2 separate regions of the Homo sapiens genome follow, and region 2 is linked to region 1. The links come from fine-mapping of genetic effects on gene expression. Tissue or cell type: T cells. Region 1 holds a variant in brackets; the other region holds the start of a gene. All regions are shown on one strand. Distances are between the middles of the regions. Region 1 overlaps LOC124907729 (a long non-coding RNA gene). Region 2 holds the start of MBOAT2 (membrane bound glycerophospholipid O-acyltransferase 2).

Evidence for each region. PIP is the estimated chance that this variant, and not a neighbour inherited with it, causes the effect.
Region 2: it holds the start of MBOAT2, and the variant in region 1 is fine-mapped to the expression of MBOAT2 in T cells (TOPMed, PIP above 0.99).

What each region holds. Positions count from the first base shown.
Region 1 is chr2:9,042,730-9,057,924 of GRCh38, reverse strand. It overlaps LOC124907729 (a long non-coding RNA gene), which reads right to left. Exons shown (of 2, transcript XR_007086200.1): 2 at 11,705-11,958. Among named protein-coding and RNA genes, the nearest start is that of MBOAT2, 47 kb to the right of the region's middle. The variant A/G (reference allele first, on the strand shown) is at 7,359.
Region 2 is chr2:9,000,625-9,015,819 of GRCh38, reverse strand. MBOAT2 (membrane bound glycerophospholipid O-acyltransferase 2) reads left to right here and starts at 12,136. Exons shown (of 13, transcript NM_138799.4): 1 at 12,136-12,280. The coding sequence starts at 12,206. LOC124907728 (a long non-coding RNA gene) reads right to left here and starts at 11,744. Exons shown (of 2, transcript XR_007086199.1): 1 at 11,692-11,744; 2 at 6,957-10,351. RefSeq lists silencers at 11,763-12,222, 12,766-13,060 and an enhancer at 12,825-13,479.

The DNA of each region.
Region 1 (15,195 bases):
GCTGCAGGAAAAGAAAAGTCTAAAAAATATTTTTGTTCTTATATATTTGATATACAATTAGAAAATACAATATAAAAGTCCAAATCACAGCAGCACAGAAAATATAAAGGGAGAAAGAGATTTTAAAAACCTCACCACATTAATAACAACCACTACAGCAGCAACGACAACAAACTCCTATTTAAACTGAGCCTGCAAACCAAAATTCCAAAACACAGAGAGAAATGCCAAGAAAGTTATCCAGCAAAATCAATAATGAAAATATCTCTCATAATTTCATATCATATGAAGTTAATTTTATGAAATAGAAGAAGTCTCTTAAAATGTTTAGCATCTACAAAGAGATAACTGAAGGAATAACATTAATATTTAAATACTTAAAAATTATTAAATAAAAGCTAGCAGAAATGATAAAGAAATAGGTTCTTATTTTAAAAGTGCTAATTGGAAAACTGAGAAAGAGAATTTTTTAGTTAAACGTACAGAGTAAACTCTAGAGGGATACTGTCAAAAAAAAATTCCATGAATTGACAGTTATTACAGAGGAGTTCACCTGGAATAAATCACAAAGAGGCAAAGGCATAAAAATATGAAATAACAATAACCATGGAGGATAAACTGACAAGCTAAAATACATGTCTCATATGAGTTCCCAAAGAAGAATTTTGAAGAACCAGCAGAGAAGAAATAAATAAAACAACAGTGGCTGAAAATTTTCTAAAATGAAGAAATAAGCACAACCTCGGATTAAAAGTACACTCTGAATAATTTGCAGGCTAATTAAAAACAAATTCATTTCTAAACACACAAGAGCAAAAGTGTAGGATATTCAGGATAAAGAGAAAAACCTGAGAAGTTACCAGAGAATTACTAAGGTATCAAAAAGTGTTCACTTTCAATTTTATACCTAGTTATATAACCATTCTTAACTGGGCTTACAATTAGGACATTTTTCAGACTATACAACTCTACAACAAGTAATATGAGAATATAACACCATAGTAGAAACACAACTTCTGAGAGATGAGACGGGCTATAAGAAGCAAAGATGAGCAAAGAAAGTGATATATAAATATATATATATAAATATATGTATATATATATATATATATATATATATATTTTTTTTTTTTTTTTTTTTTTTTTTTTTGAGACAGGGTTGCCCAGGCTGGAGGGCAATCGTGTGATCTCCACTCACTGCAACCTCCACCTCCTGGGCTCAGACCATCCTCCTACTTCTGCCTGTTGAGTAACCAGGAATATAGGCCTGCACCACCATGCCTAGCTAACTTTTTAAAAATATTTTTGGTAGAGATGGGGTTGGTAGAGACAGAGTTTCACCATGTTGCCCAGGCTGGTCTTGAACTCCTGAGCTCAAGTGATCTTCCCACCTCGGTGAAAGTGATAAATTTTTAATAAATTTAAATAACTTGGAAAGATAGTGATTACTATTTTTTTGTAAAAAAGTAGAAAAACAATGACAAAGTGAATGCAGGGTTAAAATTTTGAAATAACTGTACACTGTATTAGAGAAATTCATAGTTAAATATTTACGTCAAAAAGTAAGCACAATCACTAACAGAATAGAAATGCAATTGACATCAATACCAGTAGAAAAAAAGATAATGGATTTTTTTTTTTTTTGAGACAGAGTTTTGCTCTTATTGCCCAGGCTGGAGTGCAATGGCATGATCTCGGCTCACCTCAACCTCTGCCTCCTGGGTTCAAGCAATTCTCCTGCCTTAGCCTCCTGAGTAGCTGGGATTACAGGCATGTGCCACCACACCCGGCTAATTTTGTATTTTTAGTAGAGATGGGGTCTCTCCATGTTGGTCAGGCTGGTCTCCAACTCTCGACCTCAGGTGATCTGCCTGTCTTGGCCTCCCAAAGTGCTGGGATTACAGGCATGAGCCACCATGCCCAGCCAATAACGGAATTATTAAAAACTTATTTTAACAGAAGGCAGGTAAGAAGAAAAAATAATGAAGCCAAGAAAAATGACAAATGGAAATCCAGACCTCTGAGGAAGGAGCGCTGCTCAGCTGGAGCTGGGATCTTTGAGCTTTGACTAGGGGATGAGAAGAGACAATAGAGCTGGTTCTGCAGGCATTGGAAAAATTGCAAACTGGATCAAGATACTTCCGGAAGGAACTACTGCTGTTAGGGTGAGGAAGTATCTTTGGGATAACATTCACAGGAACAGAAAGCTGACAGTAAGTCACACAGGAAGTAGAAAGGAAGTCATATAGGAAGTAGACAGGAAGTCACACGGGAAGTAGACAGGAAGTAGACAGGAAGTCACAGGAAGCAAGTTGGAAGAAATAAATCCCTTCTTTCCTTCCAGATTTATAAACTTCCGCTGGTACCCCTATTGATGGAGTCAAACATGGAGCTGTTGGCAAAGCAGAAATGTCGTTTGCAGAGTTTGAGCCCCAGTATCACAAAGCAGAATGTAAAAGCCTGAATTTCAAGCTAATGGATAATAACCCAACAATTGGCACACATGTTTCTTCACTCTGTTTCTTCCAGCACTATTTAATGAATTATTGTCTTGTCCCCATAGGTTTTTTTTTTTTTATGGTGAAAAACAACTTACAAGCAGAAGATACTATGACTTTACTGAAAATACTCATAACAATCTTTCATGTAAGGACTTTACTGGCTATTCCTTTACAGTGCTTTACTTTGCTGAACTTGTACATACACCAAGTCAATTTACAGTTGGGGAAAAGCCTTGTAACTATTAAATCCTCCGAACTCACCTTCCAACTCCCAAGTACATAGGGGTTATGTCACCATCCTAAGGATGTTATGGGGACATTAAAATGACAAATGTGCTAACTAATGTCAAAGATAGACATGGTTATATAAAATTTAAAAATGAAAAAAAAAACCAGAAGACAACATCTTAGGTGTCCCTTATATATGATAATGTAGATTTTATAGATGTACATGAAAGGATTGGAAGTAAAATTAGAATAGTGTAAATTAAATTGAAATAAGTCATTGCAGCTCAATGTTCCATTTTTTCTTCCCATAAAATTATGCAAGTTCATGATTGTTTTTTAGTGGAAAAAATGTGAGAAAATTTGCTCATTCATGTTTCCCAAACTGCTTCTCTCTCTAATCTCCATGTCCCTTTTAATGTTTTTTTTTTGTATCTTCTTTGAACAAATAAAGTAATGTTGGTTTTGTCTGACTTATACCCCCAGCTTTTTAAACATTTTATGCTTTTACAGCTGCTTATTCTAATATTCACAGACTGAGTGGAGTTCACCCTCTGAATTAATTCTCAAAATAAGATTGAGATGTACAACTGAAGAAAATTCACTATAAAAACGATGACTATCCATCATATAGTGTATTGTTGGCTCCCTTGGTTTTTAAAAGTAATAACATTGCCTGACTTTGTCCTGCTTTGTGCAGAATAAGACACAATGAAGGTATTTTGTGTGCTGACAATAAAACATAGTGGAGAGGAAAATGAAAAAGCTGCTCCTGGGAAAATGTTTTCCTTCAGTAGGAAACTCTTTGTCCTTGGTTGCAGGAGCACAGAGAGAACACAGACATGAAGACCCAGTTCTTCTCCCAATCACAAACATGCCTTTGGCACTGATCAAGGTACCCCAAGGAATGAGGACTGAGACAAAAGACTGTTGAATTAGGATGATCTCAATTTTTCTTTTACTGCACTCAAGGCTGTTTAATAAATATTGTTGCAACCAACCTCTTTTTCTGCATCATTTCTTTTGTTCTTCTCTTTATTTTTCCATACATTTTAAAGGAGGGTTATTCTAAGAGTTTAATTCAATATAACAACTATTTATAAGGGAATTATTATGTGAAAGATATTCCAAGTTCTCTAAAAAAATTTCTTTTCCCTTTTAAGCTAGCTTGAGTTTATTATATGTAGCCAAATAATCCTAACATGCATGCTCATTTCTTGTAAAACCAAGTTTAGACTCCTAAGAACTGTTCAGAGCTCTATCTAACCCAGCCTTTATTCACTTTCTGAACCTTATTCCTTATTGCTTCTTAATTAAAACCTTTCTCTGACCAGCCTGCTGGCCTCTGTATTTGTAAACCCACCCGGCTCATTCCCCTACCAACCACAGCTTTGCGCATTTCAGTCTTACCTTCACTGTTTGTTCCCTTTTTAAACCCCAGCTGTCTTTCAAAACCCACTTATTTCAAAACTCTCCTTCACAGTGATTACTCTTCTTTGGATTATCTGTGGCCTTTCCTGTTTGTCCAATTTATTTGGCATTTGTCCTACACATTCATGAATCATTATTGCTTTTTTTCTGTGTATGAATAAAATTATAAGATCCATGGGCTCAGAAACCACATGTTTTGCTTGTGTTCTAAAGGAGAAGCAGAAACACTTTCTCATTCACTACTGCTGCCAGGTCACTTGCAAAAATTACACCCAAATAGGAGATTCCCCTTTTGCTCTGAGAAGTGAAGCTAACCCTTACACTCATTCACTAAATCCATGTTTATTGAGCACATTGCAAGTGCCAGGTACTGGCAACACGGATACACAAAGGGATCCGCCCTTGCAGGCCTCATAGCTGACTGCGGCACAAACAGGTCACATGGAGCCTTGTGCAGAGCCCAGAGTGTTTGGAACTTGGTCTTCAGGTGACCGATGGTGAGAAAGTACTGAGCTGACAGAGAGGGAGAGCATTCAAGAGTCCAGTCTTCAGTTGCACGTGTTCTGTGAAACCAGCAAAGCCCCACACCTGTTGATACTTTAGAGGGGATAGATACACAGCTTGCTCCAGAATATGCTTTCTTCTAGAATTTGAGTTCAGCTGAGATACAGACACAGAACCCAGCCTGATGGAGATAACAACTTGAATGCTGCAAAAAACCAGAATGAGGGTGTGACCTAGGTTTGTGGCAAGAGGAAATGCTATCATTCCTCTGAAATAAACTTACCCCACCAGTGGGAGGCCTCACCTACAGACAACATCAGCCCAACTAAGCTCACTGCATACCAGGAAGCAAACCGGGCTCTAAGGAAAATCAGCTTCTAACCCAGGTGAGAACTTTCAGAGAAACAGAGAAGATACTTCATAGTTCCCACACTCTGCTTCTGGAACCCCCGATGCATAATGTCATCTCCATCTTTCTCTCTGGGACTCTGGGGAGTCACAGAAGCAATGTCTGTCAACATGCTGCCATCTGGGAAGGCATCTGGAGGGGTGGGGAGTGAGAGAAAGCTCTGAAGGGCAATGTCATAGGAAATGCAAAATGACTTGGGTTTAAATGCCACTTCTGTCATTTATTCACTATAAAACTCTGTAAATAATTTCACTGAATGTCATTTTCCTCTTCTGTAAAATGGGAATTTTACTTCATAAGGTTTTCATTAAAAATGTACCTGGTATATTACAGATCTCAAAAAGTGCTTCTAAAATTTTTATTTTAAAGGTGACTTTTGGGGCCAGGTGCAGTGGCTTACGTCTGTAATCCCAGCATTTTGGGAGGCTGAGACGGGTGGATTGCTTGAGTCGGGGAGTTTGAGACCAGCCTGGGTAACCAGGTGAAACCCCGTCTCTACAAAAAACACAGAAATTAGCTGAGTGTGGTGGTGCACGCCTGTGGTCCCAGGTACTTGGGAGGCTGAGGCGGGAGGATCGCCTGAGCCTGGGCAGTCGAAGCTCCAGTGAGCCGTAATGGTGACACAGAGCAAGATCCTGTCTCAAAAAAAGGATGCTTTTTGGGTTTCTAACTTACCTCCTAATTAAGTAAATAATTTGTTGCCTAGTAATAAAAAGATAAAAGCAATAATTTGCTACAAAGGGGACATTGTTGATACTATGTCTATATATTCAAGCTTAGGGGAAAGAGTGAAAACACATCTAATTTGGTTTAATTTCTCCTCAGCACCCGATAAAATGTAAGTATTTGGGAGTTGCTGGGATGCGGACAGTTGATAGCAAATACATTTAAAATTATAGAAGTGCGGCTGGGCGCCGTGGCTCCCTGTAATCCCAGCACTTTGGGAGGCTGAGGTGGGTGGATCATGAGGTCAGGAGTTCAAGACCAGCCTGGCCAAGATGGTGAAACCCCATCTCTACTAAAAATACAAGAATTAGCCAGGCATGGTGGTGGGCACCTGTAATCCCAGCTACTCGGGAGGCTGAGGCAGAGAATTGCTTGAACCCGGGAGGCAGAAGTTGCAGTGAGCTGAGATTGCGCCACTGCACTTCAGCCTAGGCGGCAGAGTGAGACTCCATCACAAAAAATAAATAAATAAATAAATAAATAAATAAATAAATAAATACAGAAGTGCACAGATCTTATGGATTTGTCCAAATTTCATCCTGTAATACTGAATATTTTAGAAATTTCAGACGTGTTGACTTAATGTGGCATCAGAGGGATGGGTAGTCCTTATGGTGTGCAATCATCACCTGGAATGCCACACTGTCCTTCTCCTACATTGAACTCCAGGGTATGATTATTCCATGTGTGCCTACCCTCCTGTGTTAATTACTGTGATGGATTGTTTCACTCTCTGAGATGACATTCCTTTAATTTTTTTTCCAACAGAAAAACATAAAACTACTCAGTAGGAACAAGGAGCATTCTGTTAACAGAATATTTAATAATTGCTTTTGATATTTAACTCGATACTTATAATACCATTTAAATAAGCAGTCTCTGAATAAAACTACCGGTTTAAATTCAGGTAAATAAGGTAGCACGTAAAGCAATAAGATAATTTCGAAACCAGGAAAAAAGAAAATTGGTGATTTGCAATAGCAAAGACATGGAATCAACCCACGTGGCCATCAGTGATGGACTGAATAAATAAAGTGTGGTACATATACACCATGAAATACTACGCAGTCATAAAAAAGATCAAAATCACGTCCTTTGCAGCACCATGGATGCAAGCTGGAGGCGATTATCCTAAGCAAACTAATGCAGAAACAGAAAACCAAATACCACATGTTCTCACTTAGAAGTGGGAGCTAAACCTTGGGTGCACATGGACATAAAGATGGGATCCATGGACACTGGGGAATGTAAGAGGGGTGGGAGAGGAGGCAGGGGCTTCAAAACTACTGGTTGGGTACTATATTCACTACCTGGGTGACAAGTTCAATCGTGGTCCAAACCTCAGCATCACACAACATACCCATGTAACAAACCTGCATGTTTACTCCCTGAATCTAAAGTAAAAGTTAATAAAATAAAATAAAACTGGTGCTCTGTTGATTGAGAAATTAACAGCATCTTTATTTTATTCAACAAGATCTATTGACCGTCATGTGACCTCATGTAACCTCAAAGGAATCACACTCAAAAGCAGGAAACACACATACAAATAGGGACTTTCC[A/G]GAGAGAGACAGAGTCCCTGAATCACATCCATTTTTTGAGGTTCCTGATGTACCACAAATAAATAAATTAATTAAATAGTTATAGTTGGGAAACATGATTATAAAAATGGTAGTAGACTTTAAATGTTTGCACTTAACAACAGAAGTGGCGTGATGGAAAACTTCTTTTAATCCTGTCAGTGCATCTCGTAGCTATTTATATAACCTAGTCAGAGATAACATCCAACAGCTGACTCGGAGGCCCTTTGTAAATAGGCCCTGATATGCACAGATAATGCAAGGGCTCAGCCCTGGTCTTAGCGGCCACTTTTGCAAGCAAGATCTACAAGATTTCCGCTGACTGGAGTACTTTGGGTCTGTGTTTACGTGGGCCAAAAGAAACGAAGAGATGAGATGAATATCTGGCTAATTCAGGTAACATCCTCCTCCCCGAACATTACTTTTAAAGAAAAAGCGAGAGGCTTGAGCTGGAATGAGGAGAGATGGATGTAGAATAAGACAACTGTGCACCGGCCTACATGAACAGCTGTGGCCCCAACCATATCACACCTCATGCCTCTGCCTAGCTGCTTTTGTGATGCAGGCCCCCAAAGCCACACTGTGTCCCCATCCCACAGGTTGGACTCTCACCCACACATCTCTTCCCCCTAGAGTTTGGGACACCAGAGAGCCAGGCTGCCTGGCAGCTGGAGTCACTAGGATCCCTAGTCTACGCGGGAAGAGAGACAACTCTGGCTGTGGTCAACTCGATTTGAATCCTGTCTCCAGAACATGTGGCCTTCGTTGCTTCATCTCTACATTTCAGTGTCCTAAACTGTAAAATGGGGATAACCGCAATTGTAGCCACCTTACCAAGTTGAGGCGATGAACCCTAGATTGTGTAGCTCCTCGTACGTGTTTTCTCAAAGGTGGTGGTGTGTGGTGAGACACCCACAACTAGTTTGAGCACTCACTGATGATTCTTGCCTAAATCAATTATTGGTATGATAGTTGCAAAATGGCAACCAAGTTCAGCATTCTCTCTAAACTTATTAATTATACTAGAAGATCTTTCCATTCTTCCATTCTCTTGTGTACTTATTTTTGTTTAATCAGTGTGGATTAACGGATTCTTATTTTACCCAACGGGTTATAATCCATTATTATTATTATTGATCTTGACGCTCACGTTTCCCCAGACTTTGATCAGTGAGAGCTTCTGCAAGCTGTTCCCCATGTCCTTTGAATGTATCCTTTTTTTTTTGAGTACTTTTTTATTTGTTATGGCATAACAAAGCATTCCAGGCTCATAGTACATTTTCCCTGCCCCACTCTTATAATTGGCTTTTTTTTTTTTTTTTTTTTGGAGAAGTGCTGCTTCTTTTTACTGGGAAACAGTATATAGAATCTGACATCTGGGTGCTAGGCATGTTTATTGCTTTTGGGTATCATTGTTTCTAGGCCGTTTCAGCAGAAAAAACTAGAGAATACACACAAATATTCACAAATGTAATTATATCTATACAGTATTTAGAAACCATGAATTCCAATTCAACACCGCAAGGCTCTTCTTAGCCTTTTACCATTATGTATTAATATTTTCCTTCTCAACGTCATCAATACGTGTACTCATTTGTTCACTCCTACATACATAGCAAGTTGTTTAGAATTGCTAGCCCACAACACTGCTAAAATAAGCCCTACTTAAATACAGTTCAAGATTTGCTTGCAATAGGCTTTTTCCTTGTAGTCGAAATACTGTGTTAAAAAGTTCCTCAGGGTGAGTTTATTTTTTAAAAACAAAGTTATTTGTGTTAGTTCCCCTCCCTTTTACTGTAGTCACGCTCTCTATTTTAAATACCATTGAGTTCATTTGTTTCTGTTTGTGTTACATCTTAGGACTTCCCCTCCTCCATCTTATTGACATAGTTTAATTTAATTTTATTTAATTTTGGTGTATGTAAACATTAATGTGGTTCTGGAAGTCCATACTATACAAAGAGATATTCTTTTCACAAAAATAAGCTAATATATATATATATATATATATATATATATATATATATATGTCTAACATCTATATCTGTATGTCTTTCATACACAAAAGATACCAATATATGTACTCCTTTGTTCTTTTATTATTATTATTATTTTGCTTAACAACATGCCGTAGAAATGATTCCATATCAGTTCAGATATATTCCTTATTTTTTATAGCTGCATAGTGCTCCATTGTGTGGATATACCATACAGAGTTTTAATGGATTTTCACATCTCACTTTATCTTTGCAATGCCCTGTGAGGGAGAATGTATGTTATTATCCCCATTTCATAGTTGAGAAAATAGATTCAGAGAGGTAACTGATGAGTACTGACAGGGTGGGAGCTGAGACTCAGTCTTGAGTTTGAGGCCAGCCCTCCTCTGACTGCTGTGCTGTTAGTCTCGAGATCTCTCATCCCTCTATGGCAGTGGTCCCCAACCGTTTTGGCACCAGGGACCGATTTCATGGAAGATAATTTTTCCAGGGGCTGCGGGATGGTTGCGGGATGAAACTGTTCTGCCTCATATCGGGGCATTAGTTAGATTCTTATAAGGAACGCGCAACCCAGGTCCCTCACATGCACAGTTCACAGTAGGGTATGTGCTCTTATGAGACTCTAAGGCTGCCACTGATCTGACAGGAGACGGAGCTCAGGCAGTAATGCTCGCTGGCCCGCGCTGTGTGGCCTCTTGCTGTGTGGCCTGGTTCCTAACAGCCCACGGATCAGTATCCGTCCGTGGCTTGGGGGTTGGGGGTTGGGGACCCCAGTCTACACCTTAAGGTAATTCAGTGTTTGTGGGCTAGTCTGGAATGGTGACCACTATTTATAGTGTCTCTAGGTTTAATTGTAATAATAATGTGTTCTGAGTTCTAAACAATCATTAAAACAAAATTTAGTAAAGTATCCTACATCAGGGTCCTGAGTATGTTCCAGCTTGGTAATTTAAGAGGAGTTAGTAAAGGACCTTGTTGTTGCAGGGAAGTAGAAATTAGAACAATAGTGAGACACTATTTCCTAACCATCAGATTGGCCACAATTAACAAGCCTGACTATACCAAGTGTTGAAGAGGACATAAAAAAATAGAAATGCTTATATACTATTGATGGGAGTATGGATTCAGTCAATCACTTTGGAGAACAATTTGGCAATATTTTAGAAATTTAAGACTATACATAGCTTTAATGTAATTAACATATAGTGGGTTTATTAGTGATTTTTAAATAAGTTAACATATATTTTAAGATTTTCTCAGTTTTAATCTCTACTATGATAAGTGTTGATAGCTATAACACACATACACAAATTTCACTGTGTTCCTAAATAAACGTCGGCAGGATGAAGAGGTACTGAGACAAAAATGTCTTCAAACTGCCGTCCTAGAGAAATGCTGAAATATGCACATAAGGAGAATTGTTTAAAAACATTGTCAGATTGTTGATAATAGTGAAAATGTGAACACAAACGTCCACCACGAGAGCATAGACAAATGGAGTGCTGTATATTCATACAATGGAATTTTATATAGAAACTAAAATGAATCAACTTGGATAAATCTCAAAAACCATGCTGCATGAACAAAACAAGTCGTAGAATGTTGCATGGAGTATGACATATTTTCTTTAACTTAAAAAATTTGCAAACGTGCAGTGGCTCATGCCTATAATCCCAGCACTTTGGGAGATTGAGGCAGGTGAATTGCTTGGGCTTAGGAATTCGAGACCAGCCTGGGCAACATGGTGAAACCCCATCTCTATCAAAAATAAAAAATCTTAGCCAGGCGTGGTGGTACACATCTGTGGTCCCAGACTTGGGAGGCTGAGGTGGGAGGATCACTTCAACCTGGGGGGTGGAGGTTGCAGTGAGCTGAGATCACACCACTGCAAACCAGCCTGGATGGCAGAGTTGCAAAACAATTTCATGTAACATGTAACATGCATACATCCATGTATGTGTAATGAAAGCTTAAAAACACTCCTGGGAATGATGTATTCCAACTTCAAGATAGAAGGCTTCAACTCTATTATATGATGTTTTAAAAAAGATATATCTGAGATAAATATGCGAAAATATTAAGATTTTGTGGGGGTATAAAGGTAATGGTTACTATTCTATGTATTTGAAATACAGAAGAGGAAGGAAGAAGAGAATGAAGGTTACTTAGATAATTATTGGAGATGGAATAATTATCTGAACAGATTATCAAAGATCCCTTGAAGCAAGAAGAAAGAGCACACAATAATATGAAATCATGCTGTGGAAGATTCTAGGTTCTTTGAGAAGGAAGGAAGGAAGGTTGTTGAAGTACTTAATAAAAAGTCAGAAGAAGGAAATGAATATTTATTGGATGGTTCTTACGTGGTTGACACTATCTCATACAATATTTTACTCAACCTATAAAGAACCCAGCAAGGTGTAATACATAGCTTTTGGGATAATAATACATTATCTCAAATTTACAGACGAGCAAATCAGAGCTCAGAGGGGTGGCCCAGGGTAAGTACACAGAGGAAGCCGACTTTGAGTCCAGGTCTTCTTGACTCAAGAGAGCTTTGCACTATTCGATTCTATGTGTGCCTCCTAAGGAGAAGAGAACACAAAGAGAAGAGATTAGAGGAGACAGCATTTCTCTTTAATGATACTTCGTATTTACGGTAACTGAGGGGTTCAAAGAATTCTAGAGCCATCACGAATTAATTCTCATAAATTATGCTGACTGTATATGAGAACCTTTACGAAACATGAAGTTTCATCATGATCAAGCAATTTCCCCTCGATTAGGACATTAGTTGCAATGTGTGGAATATAATTCTGTTTTTGTTTAGCAGAATAAAATAATCACACTGATCACATCTGCCTTTTGGGGGAATCTTGATCTTGTTTTTTTCTTTGAACCATGATTCATTTCATTTTGAACCAATGAATGAATGAAAAAGACATTTGTCGAGCACTTTTCTGTGCTGTGCTAAATGCCTTCTTACACATGACCTCATGCAATCATCACAGCAATTGTTTGAGGGTTTTTTTTTATCACCCCCATTTTATAGATGAAGCAATGAAGGCTCGGAAGTCAGAAGAGACTTACTCAGAGTGACCCAGCAAGGGGTGCACATGCTGTTTCCAACTCAGGCCTATCTGGCTTTTTCATGTTATGCTTTTGGACAATTGTTAACCAACCATTCTTAGGATAAGACCTTAAGCTGACTTTGAAATACTTGTAAATTCTTAGGGGCTGCAAAGCTCTCCTTTGTGAGGAGAAACCAAGTGAGAGCCACACTGCCTGCTGCTCATTGAAGGCTTCCAACAAGCGCTTTGCACGCTGCCCACATATTTTGCTGGCATTGCCCCTTCTTGATGAACCATCGCCTGCTGCTTTAGAAGCCAGGCTTAAGCAATAGTGGAATTATTCATATTATTACTATTGTAATGGTAGTCATTTCAAGCATGAATTCAAAATGTTTACTTTTATTGAAGTAATAGTGGTACATAGTTAAATGTTTCCAAAAGGCTTAAAACGTTCATAATCAAAGAGAACAGTCCCTTGCCTATCTTCCCTCCACAGTCCTGTTCCCAGAAGGAACTGCTGTAACCTTCTGGTTGTGCCTTCAGCAATATAGCTCCACGTTTAAAAATAATTTGCAAACCTGCATTCTTTTGATCCATAAATTTTAGACAGAATGCACTGAGGTTCAATAGTGGTAGACAAGGATTTAGCTCTGTTATCATCCCTCCCATCCTTCCATCTTCCTAATATTTTTTCTTTCTTTTTGAGATGGAGTCTCACTCTGTTGCCCAGGCTGGAGTGCAGTGGCACGATCTTGGCTCACTGCAACCTCTGCCTCCTGGGTTCAAGCAATTCTCTGCCTCAGCCTCCCGAGTAGCTGGGATTACAGGTGCCCACCACCATGCCCGGCTAATTTTTGTATTTTTAGTAGAGACGGGGTTTCACCATGTTGACCAGGCTGGTCTTGAACTCCTGACCTCGTGATCCACCCGCCTTGGCCTCCTAAAGTGCTGGGATTACAGGCATGAGCCACTGTACTCGGCCAATTTATTTTATTTTATTTTATTATTATTATTATACTTTAAGTTTTAGGATACATGTGCACAACATGCAGGTTTGTTACATATGTATACATGTGCCATGTTGGTGTGCTGCACCCATTAACTCGTCATTTAGCATTAGGTATATCTCCCAATGCTATCCCTCCCCCCTCCCCCAACCCCACAACAGTCACTGAAGTGTGATGTTCCCCTTCCTGTGTCCATGTGTTCTCATTGTTCAATTCCCACCTATGAGTGAGAACATGCAGTGTTTGGTTTTTTGTCCTTGTGATAGTTTGCTGAGAATGATGGTTTCCAGTTTCATCCATGTCCCTACAAAGGACATGAACTCTTCATTTTTTATGGCTGGTAGTATTCCATGGTGTATGTGTGCCACATTTTCTTAATCCAGTCTACCGTTGTTGGACATTTGGGTTGGTTCCAAGTCTTTGCTATTGTGAATAGTGCCGCAATAAACATACGTGTGCATGTGTCTTTATAGCAGCATGATTTATAATCCTTTGGGTATATACCCAGTAATGGGATGGCTGGGTCAAATGGTATTTCTAGTTCGAGATCCCTGAGGAATCGCCGCACTGACTTCCACAATGGCTGAACTAGTTTACAGTCCCACCAACAGTGTAAAAGTGTACCTGTTTCTCCACATCCTCTCCAGCACCTGTTGTTTCCTGACTTTTTAATGATCGCCATTCTAACTGGTGTGAGCTGGTATCTCACTGTGGTTTTGATTTGCATTTCTCTGATGGCCAGTGATGATGAGCATTTTTTCATGTGTCTTTTGGCTGCATAAATGTCTTCTTTTGAGAAGTGTCTGTTCATATCCTTCGCCCATTTTTTGATGGGGTTGTTTGTTTTTTTCTTGTAAATTTGTTTGAGTTCATTGTAGATTCTGGATATTAGCCCTTTGTTAGATGAGTAGGTTGGGAAAATTTTCTCCCATTTTGTAGGTTGCCTGTTCACTCTGATGGTAGTTTCTTTTGCTGTGCAGAAGCTCTTTAGTTTAATTAGATCCCATTTGTCAATTTTGGCTTTTGTTGCCATTGCTTTTGGTGTTTTAGACATGAAGTCCTTGCCCATGCCTATGTCCTGAATGGTATTGCCTAGGTTTTCTTCTAGGGTTTTTATGGTTTTCGGTCTAACATTTAAGTCTTTAATCCATCTTGAATTAATTTTTGTATAAGGTGTAAGGAAGGGATCCAGTTTCAGCTTTCTACATATGGCTAGCCAGTTTTCCCAGCACCATTTATTAAATAGGGAATCCTTTCCCAATTTCTTGTTATTGTCAGGTTTGTCAAAGATCAGATGGTTGTAGATATGAGGCATTATCTCTGAGGGCTCTGTTCTGTTCCATTGATCTATATCTCTGTTTTAGTACCAGTACCATGCTGTTTTGGTTACTGTAGCCTTCTAGTATAGTTTGAAGTCAGGTAGCGTGATGCCTCCAGCTTTGTTCTTTTGGCTTAGGATTGACTTGGCAATGCGGGCTCTTTTTTGGTTCCACATGAACTTTAAAGTAGTTTTTTCCAATTCTGTGAAGAAAGTCATTGGTAGCTTGATGGGGATGGCATTGAATCTATAAATTACCTTGGGCAGTATGGCCATTTTCACGATATTGATTCTTCCTACCCATGAGCATGGAATGTTCTTCCATTTGTTGGTATCCTCTTTTATTTCATTGAGCAGTGGTTTGTAGTTCTCCTTGAAGAGGTCCTTCACATCCCTTGTAAATTGGATTCCTAGGTATTTTATTCT
Region 2 (15,195 bases), 42 kb after region 1:
TATTACCCCGGCCATCAAATGAGACCACTGACCAGAGTCAAAGTCTTGTATTTTACTTACTACAGGAATATCATCAAAGGGGAGAAGCAATATTTTCTGAAATTTGTGAACACATTATAACCCACTGCCTACATTTCAGAAGCAGTATTGGCTTTTTTAAAACTAATGCATTTTCAACATGTTGGTGAATTTATAACTCACCCTGTCCCTTTAAATAAAGCATATGTCTTCGCTAGAAATGCAAGCTGTATTTCAACTTGGAAGTCCAGGGGCTTATTATGAGATTGCGTATATTTTTAAATGAAGGTCAATTTTTTTTTTACTAAATTGTTTGCCTGACAAAATGTTTACACCCCAAACCTTGACAAATATCTTTATTCAGAATAGGTTTATGTTTTCCCATCTCAAATTGAACATTAGAAATACTACTGTAAGTTTGTCCAATTTATACACATAAGATATATTTTTGTAAGAAAGCCTTGGCATAAATACAACTTAGGAAAAAGTAAACTTGGCTTAAAACTTAAATCTGAACATTGCTCATGTGTAACATGAAATATTTTAAATTATAAAAATGCATGTGTGTTTGTTTCTGTTTTATTTCTAAGTAAACTGTAAGTCTTAACAAGTGCATAAATATTAATTTGGGAATAGGTATTTGGAAATGCCTAATAGATAAAGTCATATTCTTTGATATCATGTTACGTGTAATGATATATAAAATTGACTTAGTGGACATTCTATTTAATTAGAACATGGTTTAAATGGATACTTTAATATGTGTAGGCATTACTCTTGCTGATATTTATTTGGTGTTATTTGTTATTCATGCTATTTTAATATAAGTTGCAACAAATTCTTCTTCTTCTTCTTTCTTTTTTTTTTTTTTAAGATGGAATCTCACTCTATTGCCCAGACTGGAGTGCAGTGGCATGATCTCAGCTCACTGCAACCTCCGACTCCTGGGTTCAAGCCATTCTCCTGCCTCAGCCTCCTGAGTAGCTGGGATTACAGGCGTGCGCCATCACATCTGGCTAATTTTTGTATTTTCTTTTTTAGTAGAGATGGGGTTTCACCATGTTGGCCGGGTTGGTCTTGAACTCCTGACCTCAAGTAATCCACCCACCTTGGCCTCCCAAAGTGCTGGGATTACAGGCATGAGCCACGACGCCTGGCCAACAAATTCTTCTTAAGTACAGTGAAATTCACTATTTCAGCAAAATCTGCTCAGCAGGTTATAAGAATTGTTTGCTTTTCACTTTGGAAACATTCAACATTTAGAGTTAGTGAAGATGGTATGAGTTTGGCACTGATATTGTGAAAATCAGAAACATGAGGTAGATCTCATATTTCTTAACTTACATTTCATAAGTGGTTGGTTGAGGAGTTACATAAACCATAACGTGCAGTGGGATAGCTGTTGGGAACAGTCTTTGCATAGACATTTGGATGTGTTCTGGGTGCTTGTTCACATTTATTTATTGTTTCTTTTATTGAACAAACCCCCTTTCTCATAACTTAAACTTTTTAAGGGTATGAAACATTATTTCATTCTTATTTCATTTTGTTACTTATATTCATTGCAGGAATTTTCAATGAGGGGAATGTATATATTTTTGTGAACAATTTAATGAAAAATATCTAAAGAAAATATTAGTAAATCAGGAGAAGGTTGGAAGATAAAGTTGAGAAAGTTATATAGAAGAAAAGATAAAGCTGGAAAATAAAGACAAAAGTTAAGTTAGAGGATTAACCCAGAAAGCCCACTATCCTACAAATAAGAATTCCACAAAGAGAGAACAGAAAAATGAAGAGAAGACAATTATCAAAGAAACATGAAAAACTTCCTGAACTGAAGGTCTTGTGTTTCTACATCCAAAGAGTCCACAAAATACCCAGCCCAATGAATAGCCAAGGCCCACCTAAGACAGATCACTACAATTTCAGAACATCAGCGATAAAAAAGAATATCTCTAGAGAGGGAAGAAAAATTAAAAACCAGGTCACATCTAAAGAATCAGAAATTAAAATGACATTTCTTAATAGCATCATTGGAACTTATAAGAAAATGGAGCAATGCCTTCAAAATTCTAAGTGATGAGGGTTTCAATCTGAAATTCTAGACCCATCTTGGGCAGATATCACAGACTGGTGCACTCAACACCCACTCCCTCATCCCCTTCCTAACAGCTTTCCTCTGTTTTAGACACTAGAAAGAAAAAACTGTATTTCCCAGGCTCCCTTGCAGCAGCAGCTCTGCATGTCACTGAGGTCCATCAGGCAAACTCACCCAGGAGAGATTTGGGCATTGGAGACAAGAAATGGTAACCACACAGAGGTAGTACATATTCTGGGGCACCTGCGGCAAAGGCTCTGCTATCTGTGTTTCTCATCCTTTTTTCTTTCATTATTGCTCCTCTGTGGAGCTTTTTTAGAAACATTTTCCTTTAACCACCCTACCCACGAAATTTGAAGATCATAGATATATTGTTTACCTATTTATGTACTATATAAATATCTATTACTCCCAATCTCCTAAAACCAATTTTCACCGCCATTGACAATGCATGTACTATCTGGTCCCTAGAGTTGTTACGTACCAAACAGCAAGTGGCGGGGGCTGTGGGATTACTATTAGAGCAGTCCTACGGTGGGACTGGGTGTTGTTCCTGGGTGTGTAACATCCAGGTGTCCCATTATGGGAGAGGAATGAAAGGAATCCCTCCATCACACCAAAGGAAAATCCTTGGCTGCAGGCTTGCTTTAGGGCTTAAGAGTGGCCAGGACAGAGTGAAGCAGAAGAACACAGGGGTCCAGGATACCCAGAAAAACACAGAACTAATAGATCACTCTGTGCACCTGGCCATGTTGATAGGAGTTCTAGAGTTCTGTGGTAGGATTTGGAAATGAATTCAAATTAATGATACTTACATAGAAAACTGAATGATTAAGGAAAGGCAACTGTTAGCTCCAGGAAAAACACGAAGTTGTAGAGGAATGAAAACATAATCATAATATACTATGTGGCTCCTCTCTGAATAATATCTATGAGTTCATAATAATGGAAACACTAAATATTTGTTTTGCCCAAAGTAGTAATATATTAGGAGAATCAGGTTGAAAGGAGAATGGGAAAATAATTCTATTCTCATCATCCACAGTTAGGTTGTCAATGTACAATGTTTAAAATGGAAAAGTCCTGAAATAGCACTATAAACATCTTTTTTTTTTTTTTTACCCCAGAAAATGTGAAGGTCAATTCCAATAGAAATAGTTAAAAGAGTTGAAAGTGTTGGCCAGGCAAGGTGGCTCATGCCTGTAATCCCAGCATTTTGGGAGACAGTAGTGGATCACTTGAGGTCAGGAGTTCAAGACCAACCTGGCCAACATGGTGAAACCCCGTCTCTATCAAAAAAAAAAAAAAAAAAAAAATACAAAAATTAGCCGGGTGTGGTGGCAGGTGCCTGTAATCCCAGCTACTCGGGAGGCTGAGGCAGGAGAATCGCTTGAACCTGGGAGGCAGAGGTTGCAGTGTGCCAAGATTGCACCACTGTACTCCAGCCTGGGTGACAGAGTAAGACTGTCTCAAAAAAGAGAGAGAGAAAAAAAAGAGTTGAAAGTGTTAACTATAGGAAGCAAAATTTAGGAATGAGAAAAGATAGAACAGGGACTTCTCTTTTTTTGCTAAAATCTTATAGTGCTATTTGCCTCTTAAAATTGTTTAATACAAATAAAGTGAAATCCAAACAATAAAAACAAGAGAAAAATGCCAGCCCTGTTCTAAAACTTCTTAATTGCTTCTTTTTTTCATTTTCTTCTTTGACAATTTTTGTCTGTGATTACTTTTCCTTCATAAAAGACCTTGGCTATACCATATGTATATTACTTATGAGTCTTCACCTAGATGAAGCTCTTAAAACTGAACACTGTGCTACATCAATTCCCTTTACTTCCAAATTCTCTTCCTGGTCCAAATGCTCTATCACTTGCATGGTGTATCCAGCCAATGCTGGCTCTCAAATGCAGGATCTCAAAGCTGGCAGGTTTCTGAAATTTGTAAGAAATCATAGCTACTCAGAAATATACAAGAATATTTATATCTTTATTACACATAATCAATAAGAACCCTGGACATTTGATTTTTATTTTATTTACATTAGAAAATGGATCTAGTAATGTTAGTTGTCATAGTTATTAGTACTGATGTATTGTTAGAGAATTTAACATTTTAACATAGAGAAAGGATTGTGGATTATTTGTAAATTGGAAAGACACAATAAAACCTAGTTAAATTATTTATTATGGCATATGAATCAGCATATATGAATTATTTTTCTATTTGCTTAATTATAATGAAGTTCTTAATAGAATACGATATATTAAGGGCCCAGGGCAATAGTTCTTAAACTTCAGTGGGTACTTAGGAATTACCCATGAACACTAATAAAATGCAGATTCTAAGGCTCTGACATAGAAAATTCTGATTCTTTATGTGTTGACTTGCCCAGAAATCTGGATTTTAAATAAGCATACTGAGTGATTCTAATAAAGAAGATCTTGGGACCCCACTGAGATACACTGCCTTGTTGAGTTGTATCAGACATACTTGAGTTGATTTTGTCTTTTGATTTATTTCTCAATGACACTCAGGCAACTCCAAAGGGAGCGATTTTAAGTGCTCTCTTAAATAAGTATCTAGGGACCAGTAGTGGAATATATTTCACACAAAGAGGAATAGAGTAGCTTTATGCAATAAGACCAAGTTCCTGGCTCCTGTCCTAGAATAATGTAGGATCATTTTACTGGTTACCAGCTGGATGCTAACCAAAAAAAGATAAATATTTGTGGATTCAGAGATGGTATTTAGAGAAATACTGTGCAGAGGGATGAAATCTAATGGTGCCTGGAATTTTCAAAATAATCAATCAGAGTAACAATTTTAAATGTGCCACAAAGTAATATGGTACTCCAAACTATAAATTATGCATTCAATTGCTTAGTTCTTATCCATGAAATCTTTATATGAGTTACTGTTTGTCCTTTTAAAATCCCTTTCCTACTGTGTAGGTTGTAAAGGTTCAGAATAGATACTAACAGTTAAAAGCAAAATATCTAACCACAGTATATTCCAGCATTTAAGAAGAAAATGTTCAAAACTAGTTGTCGCCCAATTTATTTCCGTTAAGTGCAAAACTCTGTTAATGCTTTCAGGTGAGGTAGGCCAGGAATTTATTAAATCACTTAACGTACTCTTTATACCCTATATTTTAGCCCTCAGTGTTTTTTCCCCCTCAATCTGGAGGAATAAGCTGACTAAAGCAACAACTTATGTTTTGTTTGTTTGTTTGTTAGATTTTGTTTTAAGTTCTGGGATACATGTGCAGGACATGCAGGTTTGTTACATAGCTAAATGTGTGCCATGGTGGTTTGCTGCACCTATCAACCCATCGCCTAGGTATTAAGGCCAGCAGGCATTAGCTATTTATCCTGATGCTCCCCCTACCCATCCCCCAACCCCCGACAGGCTCCAGTGTGTGTTGTTCCCCTCCCTGTGCTCATGTAACAACTTGTTTTTAATCTACCCTTCTATCTAGCATATGGTACCTATGATGATAAATGTAACCATATGCTGTAAGACATAATGGTGATGATGATGATGATGAAGGTGCTGCTGCTGCTGATGAAGGTGATGATGGCTAATATTTATTGAGCACTTACAATGTGACAAGCATTAAGTGTATTATTTGAACACCACAACAAATCATTATTACTCCCTTTTTATAGATGACAAGATTGAGGCCCAAGGAGGTTAAGTAACTTTCCCCAAATCAAATAAGAAGGCCTCGAACTTAAGGCAGTCTCATTTCTCATTCCAGTGCCCAACTTCTTTATCTATTGCTTTCTATTAATGTAACCCTCCCCACCCGATGCCTCAACAAAGTTAAGGACAAAACTTCAGATGAAGTATCTAATAAAGGACCCTCCTTTCGTGTTATTTCCACCTGATCTACATCTTCACTTTGGAAGTGGCAACCCATTATTTGTAAATTTAATAATAAATTGGTTTAAGCTTCCTTGGGAACAATATCTCTTTCATGATAGGTTTACCTTTAAACTTAATGTTTTGTGGTTTTAATAACAACTGTCTTGTGATAAACAGTATTTTAGGCCTAGATGAGAATGTAAATAAGAGGGAATAACTATTTGATTTCAAATGGAAAATAAATTAAAAGATAATTTGATGAGCTTGAAACCAGACTATCATCTGATTATAAGGCCATTCCTTAGCAGGTAACTCATGTTTATCCAGAGTCATCCATCCTGGAGAGCAAGTTCTTTGGCAAGAGAACCAGGTTAGATGTGGTAACCCCAGACATGATGGGAAGAGATGACTCTCATTTCTAATTTTTCACTGGCTAGAACTCTGACATTAGTTAGGACACTGGTATTGTAATCTGTGGACCAAAACCCAGCATCTATAAAATGACAATAAGGGAGGAAGGGTTTAGGCATAAAATACCCATAACAAAATATGCAGTTTGACACATTTACTTCTAAAGAGGGAATTCTGCTGAAAGTGATAGGCTGCTGGGGACTACACAAAACTCTTCAGCAGGCTGGAGAATAACTTACAGCTTTCTCTTTGTCACAGAGCTGGCAGCAGAAGAGGGTGGGTGTAACTCCTCCCCTAGTAGCCAGACTACACTGTTTAGCAGAACAGTGATATGTCAACATGTATCAGAAGGGCAACTCTTCTTACAATTATAGATAAACAGAAAGAACCTGGAATATTAGGCGAACTGAGAAAATGAGGCCTTCTTCCCCAGTGCAGTGACCCCAGCAGATGCAATAAATGCTGCTAGTGGTGACGGTGATTATGATGAACCCTGGGGAGGCTACAGCAATTTATATTTAAGGTGTTTCATAATTTGGACACAAAAACTATTATGCAGATATGCAAAAGCATGAAAAAGCTTGAACTTTATTTTTCTGTACCTAGGAATCAGGGGTTGGAGGCTGCATGCTCATGTTGTAATAAATAAGCATGAAAGGGGTGTTCTTTGTATTGAGATTTGACTCAATCATATAAAGATAAAAATGCCAAATAAATCTATGAGGAAAATAAAATGTTTCCCAAGATGCGCAGATATAAAACAGAAATCTTTGCAGTCCACCAAGAAATAATAGGCATTTTTAAGGAGAAAGACTGATTAGAGACGTAATACATTTGAGGTAGTCCTGGAACCTGTGGAATAATTAGAAAGCAGTGCTATTCCCAAACTGATGAGTAATAGTTTCATTTGCATCTTTTAGCCTAATTTAAACCTAGACTGTGGTCTCACAGAGACAGAGAAAGTCCCAAAAATTCTTGGGAATCATTTAATTTTAGAGGAAGAGGTGACAATTGAAATCATTTATTTAACAAATCTCTTAACATGTTCCCAATGAAATTGAAGATGAGTGATTTGTTTGCTGGTACAGTCCACGTCCGTGGTGGAGCCAGAATACAGTGGAGCCAGGACTTCTCCTACTGTGTTTGCTACCTCTTGTTCAGCCTACTTTGTGATTTCCTAATTGAACTATGTTAGGTCTTAAAGGGTGACATTCTCGTTCCATTTTCTAGTCTCAGGCTAAGGTTAGCTTGCAAGTGCTTAAAGATGCCCCTCTAGTTAACTTGGGTTGTTATTATGTGTATGGTTCAATGTTCTTCATCCATCAAAATTATTCCAGGGTATAGGAACATAGAATAGGCAAAATAATTGCCTGAGAGATGGAATTTCATGGCACATACTATTTTTACAAAACAAAAGCAGCTTGGCAGATTATTCATTTCTTCCCAGTGGTTTCTTCAATGTTAAAAATAAGTTGGGAAGGAAACATCTCATTTTAGCAATCTTTAATGATCACAGCGATTTTAGGAGGCGAGGGCAATGAACCCAGGACAAGAGCACTGCCGCACTGCCATCTTACCACACGTGGATGCTGCCTGGTGCTCCTGTGCCTTTGTCTAAGTAACTCTTGTTAACAATGTGGCTGCTATATTGAAATCCCTTTACTACTAGTTATTATTTCTCAGACTAACAGTACTAGTAACTTTAAAAATAATTGAGTCTATGATTAAGTTCATGCTCATAGTCACAACACTCCTATGAGGTAGGATGAACAGTTACCATTATTCATATTTAACAATGGGAAACTTAAGGCACAGAGAAGCTAAGCCAATTTCTAAAGTTCATAGCTATCTGGTGGAAAAGTTAGGGTTAAAATTCAGGTCTTTTAACTTCAAGCTAAGCTTCTTTCTTACAGACATATTCCTTTGATTTTAACATTAAAAAAAGAAACTTCCTTGATACTTTTCTTGTAACATGTGAATTTGTGAATACGACTGTTTTCTTCTTTTGATTACAGGCATCATTTATCCTTTACGTCACCCCACATAGCTCCTTGAACATAGTAAGTGGTCAATAAATGTTTTAACACAAGAATTGCTCTTTATAGGATGGATGTTACCCAAGGTAGGGCAGTGAGGCATTATATACAATTAGTTTAATTCTTTTCTCTTTTGTCTCCACTGAAGAGCTTCTGGTATAATTAGCAGATACTGGTCAGGCTAATTGTATGGCCTGCACACAGTTTATGCTACCATCAATGAGTTATCAGCTTAAAATGCCAGCTTCAATTCTTCATTAAAAACATGAAGAGGTAGTATATTTAATACGAAACAAATGGTTTCCATTTTCAGAATTATACTAAATTTCTTGGATTAATATTATGTGTCAGCTTGACTGGGCTAAAAGGTGCCCAGATAGAGCTATTGAAACATTATTTCTCAATGTGTATTTGAGCATGTTTCCTGCAGAGATCAGCATTCGAATTGGTACATTGAGTAAAGATTTTCTCACCCACGTACCCCGGCGTCATCACATCTGCTGAGGGCCCAAATAGAACAAAAAGGTGGAGGAAGGGTGAATTCACTCTGAACAGGGACATCCATCATCTCCTGCCCTCGGATATCATTGCTCCTGGTTCTCAGGCTTTTGGACATAAACTGAACTACACTGTTGGCTCCTGTGTTTCTCAGGCCTTTGGGCTTGGACTGGACCTACACTACTGGCTTTCCTCGGCCTTTAGCTTACAGATGGCAGATGATCGTGGGACTTCTCAGCCTTCATAATCTCAACCCAATCTCTCATAATAAACTTCTGTCTATCTATTTCCATATCTATTTATTATCTATCTATCTATCTATCTATCTATCTATCTATCTATCTATTCTATCTAGAGTTCTCCAGAGAAGCAAAACCATATCTATCTCCTATTGGTTGTGTTTCTCTGGAGAACTCTAATATAATCTTTCTTAAGTTTTATCATGCACCAAGCACTGTTCTGAGCTCTTCATATAAGTACACCTTTATAACCTCATAAACTATGGAGTTGGTGCCATTATTACGCTCATTTTTACATGAGGAAATGGAGACTTAGAAAGGTTAAATAACTTGCCCAATATCTTGCTGCTAATAAATGGAAGAGACTAGGTGTGTTTGATTCCAAAATCTAAGCTATTATTACTACTATACTATATTTTACCTATAGTTTTGTAACTCTGACACAGCAAAATTTTCCCAGATGGCTAAAATCTTCCCTATTCTCTCTCTCTCTCTCTCTCTCTCTATATATATATATAATTTATTTCTTTATATTTTTTGAGACAAAGTCTCACTCTGTCACCCAGGCTGGAGTGCAGTGGTGTGATCACGGCTCACTGCAACCTCCTCCTTCTGGGTTCAAGCAATTCTCCAGCCTCAGCCTCCTGAGTAGCTGGGACTACAGGTGCCTGCCACCATGCCCGGCTAATTTTTTTTGTATTTTTAGTAGAGACGGGGTTTCACCATGTTGGCTGGTCTGGAACTCCTGATCTCAAATGATCCACCAAACTTGGCCTCCCAGAAGTGCTGGGATTACAGGCGTGAGCCACCATGCCTGGCCTATTTATTTTTTTGAGACAGGGTCTCACTCTGTCATCCAGGCTGGGGTGCAGTGGTGCGATCACAGCTCACTGCTGGGATTACAGGCATGAGCCACAGCGCTCAACCATTCTAGATATTAAATAATTTCATGTAGTTACCCCAAATACAGATTATGTTCTGTCATGTCTGACTAAAATAAAAATTTAGCTTAAGGAAACTCCTTTCTGCAGACATTATTTGTTCTAGCTCTGAGATTGTATCTCCATGCTGCTTACTTTAGGTTGCAATATGTTCCCAACACCCACCTTTCAAGTTTTTAAAATGGCATTTCAATTTTTTCTTCAGTTTGTATGCTCAGCCACCTGTGCGCTTCCTCTACTTTTCTAAAGTGAAGAAAAGGAAAAAAAAATGGTTTCTTTCTAATATAATATTAATAGGTCTGGGTTTTTGGATTAATATACTGTAATAAGCAGCTCTCTAATTGATTACAAATCCCACTGGAACACTCCCCTGGGGGAATGAAGGTCCTGTTCTTTTTACTCTTCCTTTTATCCTCTATTCCATTTCAGCTGAGAATCCACCAAACTAGGATTGAGTCGACCAGTGAAAGGATTCTAGGCAAGACGGGATTGCACTGATGAGTTCCACTGCCTCCTTTTCAGAGAGACAAACGTAAGCCCACAGACTGATTACTAAGGCAGGTGTATTTTTATCTGTGCTGCCTTCTTATTCAAGACTCTAAGCTAGTCATCAACCCAATGGTATAACTGATAGCTGACGGGAGTTTCTGGAATGGGTGTTAAGTGTGAGAGAGATGAAGGCCTAGTGATAAGGTCGGCTCTAAATGTAGATTTACTTGGATTCCAATCTACTTACCAGCTGTGTGCCCCTGGGCAAGTTACCTCTTCTGTGACTCAACTTCCTTGAAGGAGGGTGTGTAAAAGTGTCTATTTCACACGGTTATTGTGAGGATTAAATACCAAAAGTATTAAAGCTGTGGTTAAACTCTCAGTAAACATTAGTTATTTCTACCAAAGTTAAACTGCCAAATCCTTGAGTCTTGATTTGTCCTCATAACTGCTGTGGCATTTCTCCTCTTTTAAAGTCTTCTGAACAGAAGTTGACGTTTGCATTTTAAAGGAACTCAAATGGCTTACTTTTACGAAGTTGGGGGGATTATATATACACGTGACCCGCCAGGGTATGTAAACCTGGCGGACTTCAACAGTCTGGGGGTGCCTGCGCTCAAGGGGTGAAGGGATGCTTAGAAACTTTCTCAGGAAGAAGGTGGGGCCTTCAACGAGGGCGGCTGGCTACAAAGAACTAAACTTTCACACAGCAAAGGGGAGCCGGTCTCCCTGCGCCCGCGGGCGTCGAACCCAGGCCCAGCTCTCACCACCCAAAGGCCCGGGTGCGGCTGCAGGGTGACGAAAGCGTCAGACCCCGGGGCTGCTCTCAGCTTTGGGCTTTCACCCGGCACTCTCCCAGACAAAGGGGCTTCTCAGCCAGGTCGCTGTTTTGGTTTGTCGTCCTCCCAGCCCCCACCTTCGTCCCCAACTTCCCCTGGCGCTGGCTCGGCGGCGTCCCTCACATCGTCCCTCCGGCCGCCACCCCGGGCCCCTTTGTTGTCTGCCGTCTCTCCCAGAGAGGGGTGGGGGGCCGCGACATTCCAGGGAGGAGAAACCGAGGAGTGAGGGGCAAAGACGCTCTTCCATGCTCTCACCCGAGGAGCGCGCCCCACGACGCTGGCCAGCCGTTCTCCGGCGACGGCCCGGGCCGCGCCTCGGCGCCCTCGCCCGGGTCCTCGGCACGGGGGAGGGGCGTGGCGCGGCCGGCGCTCTCTGATTGGCTGCGGGCGTCAGGGCGTCGCGCCGCGATTGGGTCGCGCAGCTGTCTGGAGCGAGAGCGCGCGAGGTGGGGAGGGGGCCGCTGGAAGCTGCTGGAAGTCGGGGGCGGGGGATGCGGCTGGGGCGCCGGGGCGGGGACGACGGGGGCGACGGCAGGACGGGCCGCGCCTGTGCAGGGCGGTCGGGGGCGGCGGGCGCGGGAGGAGGTGGCGGCGGAGGGGGAGGTGCGAGCCGGGCACCGCCCCCGGCCCCTCCCCGGCCTTCCCCGCGCAGAGCTCCGACCGCGGGCGGCCCAGGGGCGGGCGCGCCGCTGCATCCCCATCCTCGTCGTCGCCCGGCACAGCGCGAGCGGGCGAGCGGCGCGGGCGGCCGGAGCGCCGAGGCCCGGCCATGGCCACCACCAGCACCACGGGCTCCACCCTGCTGCAGCCCCTCAGCAACGCCGTGCAGCTGCCCATCGACCAGGTACCCCGAGGCGCCCTGGCGCCGGGCGTCGCGCCCTCGCCGCCCCTCCCCGCCGCGGTGCCACCCGACCGGGGGCCCGGGAGGAGGGTGGGGGCTGGGGCCGGGCGCCCGGTGCCCCCCTACCCGCCGCTCCCTGGAAGGGAGGGGGCAACAAGCCGGTTATTGTCCCAGAGCCCCCTCCCTCCTGGGTGCGCCCCCAGCCCGCCATCCCCGGGCCGAGCGGGAGGTGGGCCGGGCGTTGTTGCCGGCGACAGCCCCCGGGGAGGGTGGTCGTATGGGCGTGCGGGTGTGCATGCGGTCCCTGCCCTTCGCGGCAGCGGCGCTCGGATCCGGTGGTCGGGTCCCGGAGCAGCCCCCGGTGCGCATGGACCGGGTTGTGGAAAGGGTGCGGAAGGCTGCGCTTTGGGGAGCCTGGCGTGGTGCTGCCTGCCCCGCGCGCGCCTCTGAGCGACCCCCGGAGAGGCTGATGCATGGGTCTGGGTGTGCTGGGTGCCTTAGAGACGGCGTCGATGGGTGCTAGGGGCCCGGAGAGGCTTAAGCGCTACTGCACTTTGGGGACAGTTTGCGTTGGATTGTGGCTTAAGAGAGACAGAGGCAACAGTTTGTGGGAAGGCAGACAGGTTATGAAGAAAAGTCGGAGTTAATCCCAGGATTCTTGCTGACAAAGTGGCAACCTTGTAGATTGATGCAGCCACTTTACCTCCTTGCCCAGCCCTCAGAAAAGCTCTTGACAGTGTCTAGGGAAGGGTGGTATTTAAATGAGGCCAATCGAGTTTGATGGTTTAAAGGGCCTAACGATTACTGAGAAATAAACAGCATTGTGATGGGAAAAGCAGCGCCATTTTTACTGAGAAAAGAAAGTTTGGAAGTATTTTGTTGTGACAGTGAGATTTAGGGAAGTTGTTAATGAGGCGGGGGCTGGGGGGCGGGGGTGTATAGTTAGGTGATTGCTCTAGCCCCAGGCTAAAGGTAGTTAACTTTGGAAATTTTGCTTACAGTTATTTCAAGTGTACTTAACCTGGAAGTGTTTGGACTTCACACGGGATACTGGTTCACTGTCTTGAACTTGAAGGTGCTGCTGTCATTTAGTCTTCAGGGATTTCACTTCAATACGGGATTCCTTCTTGTCCAGACGGCTTTCCATAGCAGCAAGCTGGAAACCTGACATTAGGATACTAGCTGCTTTGTGCTTTACTGTTTTAAATAAAATCGCCTTAAGTATGTCGAAGGAGTGTTAAACAATTGTGGCTTCTGTTGAAATTCCACATCGCGGTCATAACTTCTGGTTAATAGTAAAGTACCTATCCCCCACCTGTCTTGAACAAGAGTTCTAATGGGTGTCTTGCTAATAAAGTATGGTAGTGAAATTAATCGTGTATTCGAAGAAAATATTCTTCTCTCTTTATTAATAAATTGACCAGAATTTAGGGTTTTTCATCCTCCCGGCCCCGCGGAGGATTCTTGCTGACATTTCCACACTGGTGTGCAGTGTATGACCTTTTAGCATATCACACTCCTGCCTTAAATAGGCTACTTCCAGTATATCAGCAAATGCAGGGTGGGTGTCTGTTGAAAAGTTCTTTGCTGATGAGGAGCAAGGGAGATAGGTTTATATATTTACATTTCTTTCAGAGAGATGGGCACATGTTCACGTTCCCTTTTTCTCTCCCCCATCTTTCTTTCCCTCCCGCTCCATGTCTGCCATAGCCCTACCCGTCCCTGCTATGCTGAAATATTTTCTTGACTATGCTAATAATACCTATTCATTTATATAATGCTTATAACTTTTTAAAGTGATTTGCTATTAATGAACGCATTTAAGCATCCAGAGAAAGTTCTTTTCAGTACTGAAGTAAGCAGGAGAATCAAGGGAAAGTGACAGGACTTAAAATTTTTGACATCCTTCTTTATTAGCTAAAGGTCTTAAGTTGGTACCTTGGGACTACTCTAAATTTGTACAGCCATGTGTAGCCCTGACTTTGTATAGCACAGTCGTGCACTGCATAGTGACATTTTGGTCATCAGACCACATGTCTGCTGGTGGTCTCGTAAGATTATGATGGAGCTGAACAATTCCTATTGCCTAGTAAAGCTGTAGTCATTGTCATGTCGTAGCACCACGCATTACTCATGTGTTTGTGGTGATGCCAGTGTAAACAAACCTAATGTGCTGCCAGTCCAAACCTACTGTGCTGCCAGTCCTATAAAAGTCTAGCACATTGTGTATACTACACAATTAGGTACAGTACGTAATATTTGATAATCCTAAGTGCATCACTGGTTTATGTATTTACTATACTTTTTATTGTTGTTTTAGAGTATACTCCTATTTATTTAAAAAAAAAATTAACTGTGGAACAGCCTGAGGCAGGGCCTTCAGGAAATATTCCAGAAGGCATTGTTATTGTAGGACATGACAGCTCCGTGCATGTTATTGCCCCTGAAGACCTTTCAGTGGGACAGGCTGTGGAGGTGGAAGACAGTGATGTTAATGATCCTGACCCTGTGTGGGCCTAGGCTAGTGTGTGTGTTTGTGTCTTAGTTTTTAATCGTTTTTTAAATTAAAAAAATTTTAATAGAAAAAAGCCGATAGAATAAGGATATAAAGGAAGAATATTTTTATACAACTGTACAGTATGTTTTACGCTGTTATTATAAAAGAATTAAAAACTTAATAAAGTAAAAAAGTTACAGTAAGCCAAGGTTAATTTATTATTGAAGAAAGGAAAATATATTTTATAAATTCAGTGTAGCGTAAATGTAGAGTATTTATGAAGTCTACAGTGGTGTACGGTAAAGTCCTGGACCTTTGCATTCACACGCTGGTCACTCACCCTCCTAGGCTGTACCATCTGGTCTAGGTGTGTAGCAGACTATGCCATCTAGGTTTGTGTAAGTACACTATGGTGTCCACA